Linked DNA regions of Homo sapiens: region 2 is linked to region 1. The links come from fine-mapping of genetic effects on gene expression. Tissue or cell type: cerebellum. Region 1 holds a variant in brackets; the other region holds the start of a gene. All regions are shown on one strand. Distances are between the middles of the regions.

The links. PIP is the estimated chance that this variant, and not a neighbour inherited with it, causes the effect.
Region 2: it holds the start of C10orf62, and the variant in region 1 is fine-mapped to the expression of C10orf62 in cerebellum (GTEx, PIP above 0.99).

The regions. Positions count from the first base shown.
Region 1 is chr10:97,607,042-97,615,041 of GRCh38, reverse strand. HOGA1 (4-hydroxy-2-oxoglutarate aldolase 1) reads right to left here. Exons shown (of 7, transcript NM_138413.4): 7 at 2,240-3,532. The coding sequence ends at 3,383. It overlaps MORN4 (MORN repeat containing 4), which reads left to right. Exons shown (of 5, transcript NM_178832.4): 5 at 1-487. Among named protein-coding and RNA genes, the nearest start is that of C10orf62, 21 kb to the right of the region's middle. RefSeq lists enhancers at 2,497-2,716, 7,249-7,748, 7,749-8,000. The variant G/T (reference allele first, on the strand shown) is at 3,455.
Region 2 is chr10:97,585,229-97,593,228 of GRCh38, reverse strand. It overlaps C10orf62 (chromosome 10 open reading frame 62), which reads right to left and starts at 3,508. Exons shown (of 1, transcript NM_001009997.3): 1 at 2,295-3,508. The coding sequence starts at 3,331. The coding sequence ends at 2,660. The region is part of intron 1 of HOGA1 (4-hydroxy-2-oxoglutarate aldolase 1); the gene reads right to left.

The DNA.
Region 1 (8,000 bases):
TAAACAGTAATCTTATTACTTGTATTTGTGACTAACTCCAGGGAAAAGGGTAGAATATTTAGGCCACTTCAGGCACTACCATGGAGTGAACTGAATTCATACGGATGGCTTGGGCTGACACAGTTTCTTCCCAGTGGACCAATAAATCAGACTCACCCGAACCCCTGGGGTTTTGGTAGAATTGGACCTACTCTAGGACTGTGGGGAACTAAAGGAGCATTTGGCTCACTGTAGCTCTTCTATCATGAGCCTTGACCGTCAGGCCGCAATCAGACCTTACTGATGGGATCTCTGCAGTTTATTACGTAGGCCTCCCGTTACCCTGGTACCCAAATACGTCCCCCACCTCTAGCTCCCTAGCCTCACATTGAATGTCTCTTCAACAGCAGATTGTGGTGGAAGTTATAGCCGTGTGCCTCTATTTATTCTCTGAATTGTACTGTAGAAAAAGGTGTTTATAAAGAATAAAGAAATCACCAGAACTGCCTATACCTAGTTTTCCTGACTTTCTGGCCCTGCGTCTTCATGAATATCAACCCATTTGCTGTTTGTAAAAGTTAATCGGGTTAGCCCTTGGAACTGACCCTGCACACTTTATCAAGTCATCTAATTTTCTCAGCCTCTACAGAGGAGGACGTATGAACTTTTTTTTCTTATTTAAATCAGACAATCTCAGGCTGTCCCAACTAGTAGGTAGCACAGCTGGGTGAGATTTGTAACCGAGCCTTTCTGATTCCAGCTCCCTTTACTGGACCTCTCTCACCCTGAGCATCAGAGTACTTAAGTCCTGAGACTAGTTATGGCCACACCTGCTGGGTTACCTCTGGCAGGTCCACTCCTGCCGGAGTTTCCCTTTTTCTGCAACAGGAGAGTGGTGGAACATTGACCCCCACGCTAACCCTTTTACATGCACGTCCTTGTTGGAGGAAGGTACTATTATTATCCCTGTATTACAGATGAGGCTCAGGGAAGTTAAGCAGTTTCTCCAAGGTCCCATAGACACTAAGGGGCAGATCCCAGAACTTAAACCCAGACCTGTTTAAGCCCAGAGGCTGAGCTCTTACCCAGTGCACTACCCTGCCTGCCTAGCCCTAACTTTTCCCCCAAGTCCTAAACTTGATTCTCCTCTGAGCCTTGCTCCTCTGGAAGTTGCCTGTGAGAGGACCCCAGGCACTAAGCCCCAAGCTGTAGTGCCATTCAGAGCCTGGTTTTGGGTTGAAGATTGAGATCTTTTATTTTCTCTCCTTTAGCCTCTGCCCTAAACAAGTATCTATTTACCTCTCTTTTTAACCTTACACTTTCTTTTAAGGAGTAATTTTTTTACAATGTATCTCCATTTTTCTGCCACTAGTCAAATATTACCACTGAAAAAGGTTAAATATTTTGGAGAAAGCATCCTTTTTTGTTGTTGTTGTTGAGATGGAGTTTTGCTCTTGTGGCACAGGCTGGAGTGCCATGACACGATCTCGGCCCATTGCAACCTCCACCTCCCACGTTCAAGCGATTCTTGTGCCTCAGCCTCCTGAGTAGCTGGGATTACAGGCGTGTGCCACCACGCCCGGCTAATTTTTGTATTTTTAGTAGACATGGGGTTTGCCGTGTTGATCAGGCTGGTCTCAAACTCTTGACCTCATGTGATCCTCCTGCCTCCGCCTCCCAAAGTGCTGCCTGGCCCTAAACACTTAGCACTTTAATCAAAAAGGATGCTGAAGGGGTGCAGTGGCTCACGCCTATAATCCCAGCACTTTGGGAGGCCGAGGCAGGAAGATCACCTGAGGTCAGGAGTTCGAGACCAGCCTGACCAACATGGCGAAACGCTGTCTCTACTAAAAATACAAAAATTAGCCGGGCATGGTGGTGAACACCTGTAATTCCAGCTACTCGGGAGGGTGAGGCAGGGGAGTCACTTGAATCTGGGAGGCAGAGGTTGTAGTGAGCCGAGATCGTGCCACTGCACACCAGCCTGAATGACAGAGCAAGACTCTGTCTCAAAAAAATAAAATAAAAGTGCTAAGTGTTTGTTTCTAAATAGCTCACTTGCTCTCTTTTGCCTCTTACCCCTTCCCCAGGTCTCCAGTAAGTGAATGCCTGTTGGCTCAGTATTGCTGGGGACACTCTTCGAGCTGGGAGAAGGCAGACCATCAGAGCTCTTTTGCCTTTAGAAAGGTTCTTGACATCTGGCCAGGAAACCTAAGATCTGCATAGCAATAGAGTGTCCATCTTTATATAGCCACACTAATTTTTTCTGTTAAATTTTATTATAGTAACAAAGTGACTATTTTTAATAATAAAAGCAGAGTGCCTGTAGGCAAGTGGATGGCCCTATCTCAGGCCAAGTCTCCTTAGTGTTTCAGACCTAGGCTGACCAGAATAGTCTTCTAGAATGTAACATTTATCCACCAGGTGTCATTATTTACCAATCTGACAAGCCACTGGGCTGTCTCCGTGCATTCAATGGTTGGAATCAAGGCTACAGACCAGAATAGGAGATGAATGAAAATAGATTTAGAAAAGGGCGTTGTGGCTGGAATGCAGCTTGCAGTGTGGAGGGCAGGGATGGGAGGGTAAAGAGGGCTCTTTGAAAGACCAGTGTCACTTTCCTGATCAAGTTTCTTAAGCTGATACTTCCCTGGAAGGAGTCAGAACTTGGGTTTGTAGGAGTAGCCCTGGCCTCCAGCTGCATTGTGCTAGACTCAGGTTTGAAGCCCCAAATCTAAGTAGTCCCCCCTTTGATAAATTCCCGGCCGGGTGCAGTGGCTCACAGCTGTAATCCCAGCACTTTGGGAGGCCGAGGCAGTTGGATCACCTGAGGTCAGGAGTTCAAGACCAGCCTGGCCAACACGGTGAAACCCCATCTCTGCTAAAAATACAAAAATTAGCTGGGCGTGGTGGCAGGCGCCTGTAATCCCAGCTACTCGGGAGGCTGAGGCAGGAGAATCGCTTGAACCCAGGAGGCGAGATCATGCCATTGCACTCCAGCCTGGGTGACAGAGTGAAACTCTGTCTCAAAAAAAAAAAAAAAGAAAAGAAAATTCCCTTACTGTGCCTACTTGCCCCTCTGCCCTTCCTTTCTGACTTCATGTGCCTCAGGGCGTAGGAAAGCATCCACAGTAGAAAGATAAATTGAGAAATTGCTCCTTCCCAGTCTTCAGACCAGAGACACAGTTTAGGATCCAAAAGGGAGAGGTCAGGGGCCGTTAGAATAGGAGATATGCATGGGCGTGCCTGTGAAAGGCTGCCTGGAGGACCACAGCAGGCAAAGGAGCCTCTATCGGCTCCCCGCTGCCTGCCACCCTCATCCCCCTGTGCTCTCCGCTTCAGGCTGCAAGTGCAAGGCAGGAGGCTGAGATGGGCTCAGGCCAGCCATGGACCCTGCCTGCCCTCAGAGCCAGCCGTTGCTGGTGAAATCCATGCGCAGTGCCTCCTCCTCAGCGGGGCTCAGCTCCTGCAAGGG[G/T]GCGCGGCAGGGGCCTCCATAGTAGCCAAACCAGTCCATGATTTTCTTCAGCCCTGGGATCCCAAAGCGCCGGGTCACCTGCAAAGCAGGGCCTGTTAGAAGAGACTGAGAAATTTGCTGAACACCCATATCTGGAACTCGGAGATCTGTCACTTTCAGAACATTGAAGTCCTACCCTCTTCCCCCAGGAAAGTAACTGCCAACTCTATGGCACCCAGGGTACATTGGGAATCCAGATTTAGAGACCAGAGAGCAGGTCTGTAATAGCAAAATACAAAAACTTCAGATTGGGGAAGAAGAGTGCCTCCTTTGGTTTTAGGAGAAAAATCCACTCCAACAGAGAGGAGAGTGGTATTTGGTCCTCAAGCTGGGGTGGGAGAAGACAGCAAGGCTGCAGGTCTAGGCACTAGAGCATCAGCAGTCTGCAGCCCAGCTCCCTGAAACCTGACGCAGGTCACACCAGACCTGGGAAGTCAGGAAGGGGAAGGATCTGTGAGAGTCTCAGGCACAGCCCAGACCTCTACTCCCCTTGCATCTGGCTGCCCTCACCTCCCCATAGCTCCTCCTGACCCTAACACTAAATGGTCTCCCAGGAAAAGCAAAGCATCATTTCCCAAGGAAGTTTTGTTGTATAAACTGTATGTCATTTACTTATTATCTCTGAGTAAGTTCTCCTGTCTAAAAAAGGAAGGGGCTGGACAACATGATCTCTAAAGGCTTTTCCCTGATAATGGGGGACCTAAAGCTATTGTTATAATTTATTCATTTATTTTTATTTATTTATTTTTTTGAGACAGTCTTGCTCTGTCACCCAGGCTGGAGTGCAGTGTCCTGATCTCAGCTCATTGCAATCTCTGCCTCCTGGGTTCAAGTGATTCTCCTGCCTCAGCCTCCTGAGTAGCTGAGATTACAGGCACCTGCCACCACACCAAGCTCGTTTTATTTTATTTTATTTTTGTATTTTTAGTAGAGACAGGGCTTCGCCATGTTGGCCAGGCTGGTCTCAAACTCCTGACCTCAAGTGATCTGCCCGCCTCGGCCTCCCAAAGTGCTAGGATTACAGGCATGAGCCACTGCACCCGTAATAATTTATTTATTTTTATTTTATGTTTATGTTTTTGAGACAGGGTCTCACTGTGCCACTCAGGCTAGAGTGCAGTGGTATGATCATGGCTCACTGTAGCCTAGACCTCCTGGGCTCAATCGATTCTCCCACCTCAGCCTCCACAGCACCTTGGACTTCAGGTGCATGACAGCATGCCTGGCTAATTTTTGCATTTTTTGTAGAGACGAGGTCTTGCTATGTTGCTCAGGCTAGTCACAAACTCCTGAGCTCAAGTGATCTGCCCACCTTGGCCTCCCAAAGTCCTGGGATTACAGGCATGAGCCACGGCGCCTGGCCTATTATAATTTAAAATCGTGTATGGAATATTACAGAATAAATGAAGCATCAAATTTCCTTGCTTTTGGTATAGCAACTGGTTATTTCATGCTGATCAGAAATATTAGATGAATCTTTCACTACCTAAAAACTACAAAAGTAGTCCTTAAGAAAGTTTTATTTGGAGAGAAGCTAAAACCTTAGGAGGATAAAAATAAAAGGTTGTTTGGGATAAAAAGGCCAGGAACCACTGATGAAAGATTGACTAATAACTTTACCACTAGAGTCCCGGAGGCTTTATCAAGCATGGATTTTTTTTCTCGGAATGGGTGGTAAGCCACCCTCCTGCAGGCCTCGCCACCCCCATGATGTTCTAATAGCCTGGCCTTTTTACCCAAAGCCTGAGTAGGTGGGAAAGACCCAGGATACAGGATGGAAATAAGAGGTGCCCAGAGAAAAGCTCACTCCTGCCATGGGTTTCCAAAGATATCTGATGTGGCCCCTCTTCAAACCCTAAGAAGGGGTTGGTGGCAAAGACTGTAGAAAGTCCTAAATATAGCCAGGGGCAGGAGGCAGGCTGGTGGGAAGGTGGAGGAAGGACATTGTGTTTGACCAGGGATGGGCAATAGAGTGACATCAAGCTGTTCTCGGGGTGTCTGAGCCTACAGCCTAGGCAGCAGAAAGGTGTTCCAGGCATTCCTGGGTATGTGCCCAGAGCTGGCACAGGAGAGGACACAGAATGAAGGGTGAGGCAGGATGGGGTAGGGCGGGATGACACGCAGAGATCTGGGATGACAGCTAGGCATCCACTCTTCCCCAGGGGCAGCCCAAGCTGCTTCATCTGTGAAATGAGTGATAACAACACCTACCCCATAGAGACGTCCCAAGGGCCAGATGAGAAAAACACTGCTAATATTAGACCAGTTCCCATGAGCCCTGGAAGCCGCTCCGTTTCCTGTCCCGGTGGCATGCGGGTTCTGGGACCTTCGTTTTCAGAGGTGCACTGGGAGTGGGAGAGCAGAGGCCCCACCCCAGTGGAATGTTCAGTATGTGCAGGACGGCCTGTGCCCAACGGGGCCCTCGTTTCTGCAAGTTCTTATAACCTATTTATAGAAGGTCCCATCTCAGAAGCACCTTCACCTCCAGAGGGACTCAGATTTACCTCCTCAGCTGTCGTTTCTGTAAATCTAAGTTAATCTGCCCCTTTGAGGTAAGGATACAGCTGTGAGGGAGCTCTAGAGCCCACCCATCACTTTACCCAAACAAAATATTGTGGAGTGCCTAGCTCAGCCTGGGACTGCAGCCAGGCCCATGAGGCCCTTACCTTGCATGCAAAACTTAAGGGGAGGCCAAAAATCTCAATCATCAAAATAAGTAATATTTCAATGCAATTTTTTTTTTTTGAAACAGTCCCACTCTGTCGCCCAGGCTGGAGTGCAGTGGTACGATCTCGGCTCACTGCAACTTCCGCCTCCTGAGTTCGAGTGATTTCTCCTGCCTCAGTCTCCTGAGTAGCTGGGATTACAGGTGACCAACACCATGCCTGGCTAATTTTTGTATTTTTAATAGAGAGAGGGTTTCACCATGTTGGCCAGGCTGATCTCGAACTCCTGACCTCAGGCGATCTGCCTGCCTCGGCCTCCCAAAGTGCTGGGATTACAGGCGTGAGCCACCGTGCCCAGCCAAAATAAGTAATATTTCAATGCAATATTTTTTAAAAATCAAAATTAATGCAAAAAATATCCACAATGAATGAAACTTTAAATAAAGACAGGATCCAACAGAGCTGTGCCCCACCATATAGAAGGCTCATGCATAAGTAATCATGTGTGCCCCATGTATTTTTTGGTGTATTTTTTCATTTTTATTTATTGTATTTTTTAAATTTCTTTTTTTGAGACAGGGTCTTGCTCTTTTGTCCAGGCTGGAGTGAAGTGGCATGATCGTAGCTCACTGCAGCCTCGACCTCACGGGCTCAAGCAATCTCCCTGCCTCAGCCTCTGAGTAGCTGGGGCTAGAGTTGCACACCCTCATACCTGGCTAATTTTCATTTATTTTTACTAAAGACAAAATCTCACTCTATTGCCCAGGCTGGGCTCAAACTCCTGAGCTCAAATGATCTTCCTGCCTCAGCCTCCCAAATTGCTGGGATTACAGGTGTGAGCCACTGTGCCCTGCTGGTGTCTTTTTAGCGGTTATTCTTTCTCTAGAAGTAGACTTGGAAAAATATGTTTTGATGAGTTTGCTTCCATTAAAGCCAGGAAAATAAAATTATAATAAATCATGTTTTTGGTATATGAAATATTTAAGCCTAAAATAGTGCTGTGAGTTTTAACATACCTACTTCTCAATTTTCAATATTTTTTCACCCACTTTAATGTTCTTAGGGGGAAAAAAATCACCATTTAGAAAAATACTTAGAGCATTTACTTTCAGGAAGATGGAGTAGATGTACTTGTCCCAATTCTTCCCAATAAGTACAACTAAAAGCTCTGGACGTTACATAAAAATATTATCTGGACATTATATAAAAAATTATATATATATCTGGACATTATATAAAAGACATAAGAAGACTCTGGAAGGCAGAGAGAAGGAAGACCAACAAGGGACCTAGAGACCCAAGAAGTAACACAGTGCTACGTACCCTGGCCCAGACTTGGAGCTGAAGAAGTCAGCAAGCACGCAGTGCCAATGGGTACAGACAATACACGCACTAACAGAAGCCAGTTCTCTCTAGCCAGAGGACCAGAAAAGGGGTTGCCTAGCAAGATGGAAAGCTTTCAGACAGTAACTGCTCTACTCCAGCCGAAAACCAGCCAGGCCAGCAAAGACTGAGTGAAGGAGTCTGAACTGCCACCCCCGCTCCCAGCTGGGTGGTGTCAGAGCAGGCCAGGGGGAGGGAAGTCAGGACTTGCACCACTGCTCATCTTCAAAAGGCCACCAGAGCCCACCCCACCTGCTGCCAGACACACAGGCAATGCAGTGGAGGCAGTGTGTAGGGAGCAGCCAGGGGGCTCTTCTACCCTCCAGGCAGCAGGATGTCCATAGATGCCTAGTACAGATCCTAGTGCAGAGGTGTCTTTTTTTTTTTTTTTTTTAAGAGATGGGGTCTGGCCATGTTGCCCAGGTGGGTCTCAAACTCCTGGCCTCAAGCAATACTGC
Region 2 (8,000 bases), 22 kb after region 1:
GCTGGGATTACAGGCGTGAGCCGCCGTGTTCGGCCCCCAATGAACTTTAATGGAATTAAGACTTGATCTGGAAAATTAGCCACCCTCCCAGCCAACTCTCAGGCAAGAGCCTAGAAGCTGTTAACTACTCTTCTTTGTCTTTACGTAGTCTTAACAGTGAGTGATCTGACCATTCTCTTTTTTTTTTTTTTTTTTTTTTGAGACAGAGTCTCACTCTGTCGCCCAGGCTAAAGTGCAGTGGAGCGATCACTGTTCACTGCAACCTCCGCCTCCTGGATTCAAGCAATCCTCCCAACTCAGCCTCCCAAGCAGCTGGGATTAAGGTGGGCACCACCATGCCCAGCTCATTTTTGCATATTTAGTAGAGACGAGGTTTCACGAGGTTGTCCAGGCTGGTCTCACAAACTCCTGACCTCAAGTGATCTGCCCATCTCGGCCTCCCAAAGTGCAGGGATTACAGACAGGAGTCACCACGCCCAGCCTGACCATTCTTTTTTTAATAAAAATATTCTTACCAAGAGTATATATTTGAGTTAGCTGCTTACAGGTCATTTTGCTTGCATTACAACGATAATCAAACTTTGACACACACTCATAATCAAATTGTCTGAAAACTTTTTTTTTAACTTGAAATATTGAATTACTTTTAGATTTACAGAAAAGTTTCAAAAATAGTACAGGGATTTTCTGGCTGGGCACGGTGGCTCCCACCTGTAATCTCAGCACTTTGGGAGGCCGAGGCTGGCGGATCACGAAGTCAGGAGATGGAGAACATCCTGGCTAACACAGTGAAACCCCGTCTCTACTAAAAATGGAAAAAATTAGCCAGGCGTGGTGGCGGGCGCCTGTAGTCCCAGCTACTCGAGAGACTGAGGCAGGAGAATGGCATGAACCCGGGAGGTGAAGCTTGCAATGAGCCGAGATCGCACCACTGCACTCCAGCCTGGGCCACAGAGCAAGACTCCGTCTCAAAAAAAAAAAAAAAAAAGTACAGGGATTTTCTATACATCCTTCACCCAGCCTCCACCAATGATAATGTCTTACCTAGCTATAATATGATGACCAGAACCAAAGAATTAACACTGGTACAATGTCATTAACTAAGGACTTTATTTGAATTTTGCCAGTTTGAGTCTGAGGCTGCAGTGAACTATGATATCACCACTGTAATCCAGCCTGGGCAACATGGCAAAACCCCATCTCTACTAAAAATACAAAAAAAATTTGCCAGGCATGGTGGTGTGTGCCTTTGGCCTTAGCTACTCGGGAGGCTGAGGCATGAGAACCGCATGAACCCGGGAGGCAGAGGTTGCAGTGAGCCAAGATCGCGCCACTGTACTCCAGCCTGGGCAATGAAGCGAGACTCTGTCACACACACACACACACACACACACACACACACACACACACAAAATGAAAGAAAAGAAAAAAAAAAAATTAGCCAGGTGTGGTTCCACACACCTGCAGTCCCAGCTACTTGGGAAGCTGAGGTGGGAGGATCGCTCGAACCCAAGAGGCAGAGGTTGCAGTGAGCCGTGATCACGCCTCTGCACTCCAGCCTAGGCAGCAGGAGTGAAACCCTGTCTCAAAATATACATACATAAAAAACAAGAAAAAAAGGGAAAAGAAAAAAAAGAACCCAAGATGATCAGGTTAAATAGCTAATGCACGCAGGGCTAAATAAATACCTTAGGTGACGTGTTGATAGGTGCAGCAAACCACCATGGCACACGTTTACCTATGTAACAAACCTGAACATCCTGCCCATGTAACTCAGAACTTAAAATTAAATTAAATTAAATTAAATTAAATTAAGTTAAACAAACAAGAAGAAAGTGTTGTGCTCACTCAGTAGCTGTAGACTTAGGTGGTGGGGAGGTACTAACATGGATCCCAAGGGGCCCCAGGAAGCAGGTGGGGCTGGTGAGAGAACTGCCTTGTAGGATGCCACATGACTTGAGAGCAAAGATAGCACCAAGACGACAGGGGCCCTCATTCCCACCTGGCTTAGTTACTCTCCTCTGAAAGCCTGTTTCTCCTCCAAGCCCAATACCTGGCTGCTCCCCTCTTCCCTGGCAACATCAGATTGGGGGTGTTGAGACGTCTAGAGGTACCCCTTTTCCAGAACCTGAGACCAGGGTAGCTGTTTTATGGAGCTTTAAATGAGGCCCAGTGAAAAGGCCCCAGGTCGGGGGCCTTTTCTCCACTCCACTCCAGAGGACTGCTGGAGAGGGAGCCCCCTCCCTCCATCCCTGCCAGACCTTAGGCTGCCCACAGAGCCCCTGGACTCAGAGTGAAGGCACACAAAGCTTTATTGGCTCCGTTCCAGGCAATGACATCAGTGTGGGGCTCTTGCCTGCTCCCATCTGTCTTCTCTTGGTGGGTCTTCAGGGGCCTCAGGGTCTATCTCACCTGCGCTGTGTCCTCCCAGCTCTCCCTCCAACAGGGGCCATCTTCTGTGGCAGACCCCACTCATGGAGTTTAAAGAGCCCATAATCCCCGTGAGGAGCCTAAGAAAGTAGGGATTTGGGCACAGCATCTCACCCTGGCCTGCATAGATGGCCCCATAGGAGAGAAAACAGACGTGTGTGTGAGCCAGCCTTGCTGGGGGCAGGGGCGTCTCCATCCATGGTTAGGTGGCTTCCAAGAAGTCACAGATCTAGTGTCTGCGATTAGGCAGGCTGTGGCTCTGGTGGCTTGGGTGGCCATGGTGACTGTGGTGACTGTGGCCATAGAAGGTGTGTGTGTGATTGGCACCAGCTATGGTGTTTTCCCGCTGGGTGAGGAAATTCTTTTGCAGCTTCATCTCTACCTCCTCGAGGGCCCTCAGCTCCTCCTGGTTGATGTCCTTGGACTCTAGGTGACCTGAGTGCTGGTAAGCTATGGCCCGCTGCAGCATGGAGTGAGCCAGGTGCCGCCCCTGGGTGTCAATCTCCTTGGTGCAGGCAGCCACAGCGGCCCACGTGGCCTCATCAGTGGATGGGGCTTTTCCAGACTCCTGGTGGATCTCTTGGATCACTGAGGGCCCAGATGTCTTCTGCCTGCTGGTGAAGGATTCCCGGTGCAGAGCGGAGCCCACTTCTCCGTGCCTCGTGGTGAAGGTCTCTATGTGAACCGTGGAGCTGACCTCTTCACTCCCACTCTCAGTCTGGGTAGCATTGCCACTAGCGCTGGCATTGTTGTCGAGGGCCAGCTTCTCTTCGGAAAGGCGGCTAAAGTGGGATTTAATCCAGCTTTCATTCTTTGCTTTATGGGATTCTGGTGACTTGTCCTTGTCTGATGGACACTCAGAGGTTTCCTTTCTTCTCCTCTTTCTCTGAACCCACAGCATGAGACCTCCACCTCCTAGCAAGAGGGCAGTCCCCAGCACCACCTTGCATGATGGCTGCTGGATGAGCTCCAAGAAGGTCTCCAGGACCCTACACCAGGCAGGCAGAGCTAAGAGCACGCTGGGTGATCTCTGGTGGTATGATTCATGCTTGAAAGGGCAGGCTCCCCAAGGATGTCTGACAGGCAGGCCCCCTGCTGCACCCTCCCTAGGTGCCCCCCACCACCTCAACAATGAACCCCATTGTGAGGAAGGCAGTTGCGGGTGGGGTGGGGAGAGTGGGGTGGGGAGAGGCCGCAGCATCCCTCATGTCTAGCCTGGCAGGCATTGCCTGAGGCCTGGGTCCTGTCTCCTACCCTGACAGCTGTCCCCAGGCTCAGTGAAAGGGCTGCTTCTCCAATTCTGAGTCCTTCTGCCTTCTGCTTGGAATCCATTCTACAACTTAGGCCTTTGTATCTTCCAGTCTTTGGTTTCTCTCTCTCCCCATCTGGTGGCCCCCAGGGGGCAAAGTATGCTGGGTCAGGCTGGCCATGACAGAATGATCCCCTTGACTGGGCTGGTATCCATTCCTAGCCATCTGAGACCAGTGCACCTCCATCCAGTGCCCATGTCTGCTGCCAGCCTGGCATATTCCATCCTCATTTGCAGCCCCTCGCCTCACTACAGGGCAGAGTTCAGAGGGAAAAGAACCCAGGAAGGAGCTCATTCTGGAGTAACTAACATGAGGTCACAATGGGCTGAGGGTGGAGAGGCAAGCAGTGGGCTGAGAAGGCAGAGTGGACAGGAGACTTCATCGGGTCTAGATCCCTGGGGCCACTCCGGGATGGTAGCTGCTACCTCTTGCCTTAGTGAGGCACCTACAAACCCAGAATTTGCCCCCCCATAAATAGGCATGGTTCGGGTTGTGAGCAGGTGGGCTGGCTGGCCAGGCTTTCCATAGGTGCAGACAACTAAAAGCCTAATTAATCTCCAAGGCCTCTCAGGGTATAAACAGGCCTGGGCCACTGTATTTTTTTTTCCCCTCAAAAGCATCTAGCCCATTTAAAAAAAAATAAGAAATGCCAAAATGGGGTTGTAAACATTGTGATGCTTTAAACAAAATATTTTCTTTAACAGAGTAATGGTTTTAATATATACAAAATATTATATCTTTGCAAGAAAGCATGGTCCACTCTATGTATGGAAGGAATAGGACACAAGTGTTTTATGGAGAACCTCATCTTCCCAGTCCTGCTGGACTAGTTCTGTGGTTGGCTAACCTCATTTGGAAATAACAATTCAAAGTCCATCTTTGAGGGTGTTTATGGGTGTGAGTTCAGGGCCATAGAGCCCTTCTGTAATGACCCCTTCCTCTAGTCTCTGGTCATAATTTTTATTTAAAAAGAATACTCTTGGCTGGGCGCTGTGGCTCACGCCTGTAATCCCAACACTTTGGGAGGCCGAGGCGGACGATCACGAGGTCAGGAGATTGAGACCATCCTGGCTAACACGGTGAAACCCCATCTCTACTAAAAATACACACACACACACAAAAAATTAGCCGTGCATGGTGGTGGGAGCCTGTAGTCCCAGCTACTCAGGAGGCTGAGGCAGGAAAATGGCGTGAACCTGGAAGGCAGAGCTTGCAGTAAGCCGAGATCGTGCCACTGCACTGCAGCCTGGGAGACAGAGCAAGACTCCATCACAAAAAAAAAAAAAAAAGAAAGAAAAAACAAAAAGAATACTCTCTATTCAAATAATCAGTACAAATTAGCAATGCTAAAAAGATTTTTTAAAAAGAGCTACACGGGGCCGGGCATGGTGGCTCATGCCTGTAATCCCAGCATTTTGGGAGGCAGAGGCAGGCAGATCACTTGAGCTCAGGAATTCGAGATCAGCCTGGGCAACACGGCAAAATCCCATCTCTACTAAAAATACAAAAAATTAGCCGGGTATAGTGGTGTGCACCTTTGGTCCCAGCTACTCGGGAGGCTGAGATGGGCAGATTGCTTTAGTCCCAGGAGGCAGAGGTTGCAGTGAGCCGAGATCGTGCCACTGCAGTCCAGCCTGGGTGGCAGACTGAGACCCCATCTTAAAAATAAATAAATAAATAAGAGGCCCAGCGCGGTGGCTCACGCCTGTAATCCCAGCACTTTGGGAGGCCGAGGCCGGCGGACCGTGAGGTCAGGAGTTCAAGACCAGCTTGGCCAACATGGTGAAACCCCATCTCTACTAAAAATACAAAAATTAGCCAGGCGTGGTGGCAGGCACCTGTAATCCCAGCTACTCAGGAGGCTGAGGCATGAGAATCGCTTGAACCCAGGAAGCGGAGGTTTCAGTGAGGCAAATCATGCCACTGCACTCCAGCCTGAGCGACAGAGCAAGACTCTGTCTCAAAAAAAAAAGCTACACAGTTTCAGGGAGTGCTTTCCAGAAGAATCTCTAACTCTTCACTGATTCATCCAGGGCAGCTTTCCACCTCCTATTTATTTGTTTTAATAGAGACAGGGTCTCACTATGTTGGCCAGGCTGGTCTCCAACTCCTGGTCTCAAGAGATCCTCCTGCCTTGGCCTCCCAAAGTGCTGGGATTACAGGAGTAAGCCACTGTGCCTGGCCCTCATCTCCTCTTCAGAGGACCTTTAACTGGCTGCAGGAGGCCCTTACAATGTGATACGTTCCCTCCTCAGCCTGAGTGTTGGGCTGCAAAGTCTACCTCAGGGGCCAGGACAGGGCAAGAGAAACACAGATTTCAGAGCTAAAGTTGTTTGTGTCTTCCTTCCTGGGCATTTTGGCTGCACCCTGGAAGCAGGGAAGGGACCCTCTATCTCTGTGTTTTCTGTGACAGTGCCTTGGGAGGATTATATTGACCCTGTGGCTAGAAGCCTGAAGGCTCAGTTCCTATTCTAAAATGAGGACTGGATTTGAAAGGTTAAGTGGTTTCCCCAAGGTCTCTGTTAACTGGCAGAAGTGGCAGGATTCTTGCCCAGGTCCTCTAACTCAAGATGCTGGGCTCTTCCTACCACACCCCGCTGGCTCTCTGGTGTGTGGGTGAGTGATCAGATGGGAGCTGGAGCCTGCATAGGTTGCGAGGGAGACAGACAAGTGGGTATGTGCAGCCCACAGCCTGCTAAATCCACGGAAGCCTGTGCTCCTGGGCACCCCATGCCCTCTGCAAGAGTGGGTGGGTGGCCCAGAAGGGAGGGTCCAGAGAAGAGTCTGGGGGTCTCTGTGGATTCTCTGGGTGTCAGGCAAACACCAGATGCAAAGTCCACCCTCCCCACCCTGAACTAGAGCATCCTTGAACCTTGAAGCTGAAGTAAGGTCTTCACTTAGAGGCTCAAAATGCTTCTCACTTCAAGAGAACCAGGACCTCACCAAACCTCCAGGCCCCACGAGCCAAGCACCAGCAGAAACCTAACAGTTGTGCCCTGCTCAACGTGGCCCTCCACAGGGCATTCATTGTCCCCAAGGAAGGGGCACATTCCCTCAGTACTGAGCTATGAATGATCAACGTGTCCATCAGGCCAGGGGTCACAGTCACAAAGCAGCTTTGCTGCAATGCCAATCACACTGTCATTTTAATCATTATTACCATTGGAATCAGTACCTTCCAATGTATATTACTCCACAATTTATAGCACGATTTCACTTGCATTCTCTCAGATTTTTTTGTCCAACCATCCCATAATATGAGCATTATCACTCCCATGTGTCCGATAGGGACAGCAATCATCCCACACTAAGTCAGTGCCAGAGATGTGATTTGATTTTTTTTTTTTTTTTTGAGATGGAGTCTTGCTCTGTCGCCCGGGCTAGAGTGCAATGGTATGATCTCAGCTCACTGCAATCTCTGCCTCCCGGGTTCAAGCGATTCTCCTGCCTCAGTCTCCCGAGTAGCTGGGATTACAGGCACACACCACCACGCCCAGCTAATTTTTGCATTTTTAGTAGAGACGGGGTTTCACTATGTTGGCCAGGCTGGTCTTGAACTCCTGACCTCATGATCCCTCCGCCTCGGCCTCCCAAAGTGTTGGGATTACAGGCGCTCACTCCAGAGCTGTGATTTGAAACCAGAGTCCACAGTCTACACGATACTGCCTCAATAGCAGCCACAACAAAGCTAGTGCTGACCAGACACTCCGTTGAAATAGTGTGGCCTAGCAGCTCCAAAGGGTTTATAATGAGAGTCAGCGAGGGAGTAAAATGGAGCATGGGCCATGCAGTCAGACGAGGTGCAAACCTCAGCTCAGCTATGTGTTAGCCGAATGACCTTGGGCAGTGACCATGTCACTCTGAGGCCCAGATTCCCATCTGTGGGATGGTCCTACAGAGAGCACTGCCTCAGGGGATTGTGCAGTAAGGAATGGGGATGGGCGGAGCAGGGCAGGCAGAATTTGACATTTTCTTCTACCTTCATTTATTGTGCCTGGGACTCTGTTACATGTTGATTGTTGCAAATATCATCTGGTCCCTAACCTCAGAGTTGGGGAGACCCATGTGTAAAGAGAGATGGGGTCACAGGAGCCACAACAGGAGTCACAGGAGCCAAGGGGTCACAGGAGAACTAATTCTGGCAAGGAGGCTTTGTCCAGAAGAGAATGTACAAACAAACTTTGGAGGGAACTGGGACTGTGGCTGGGCTGCCACGTGACCCCAGCCACATGCCTTCACATCTGCACCAAGTGACAAGGT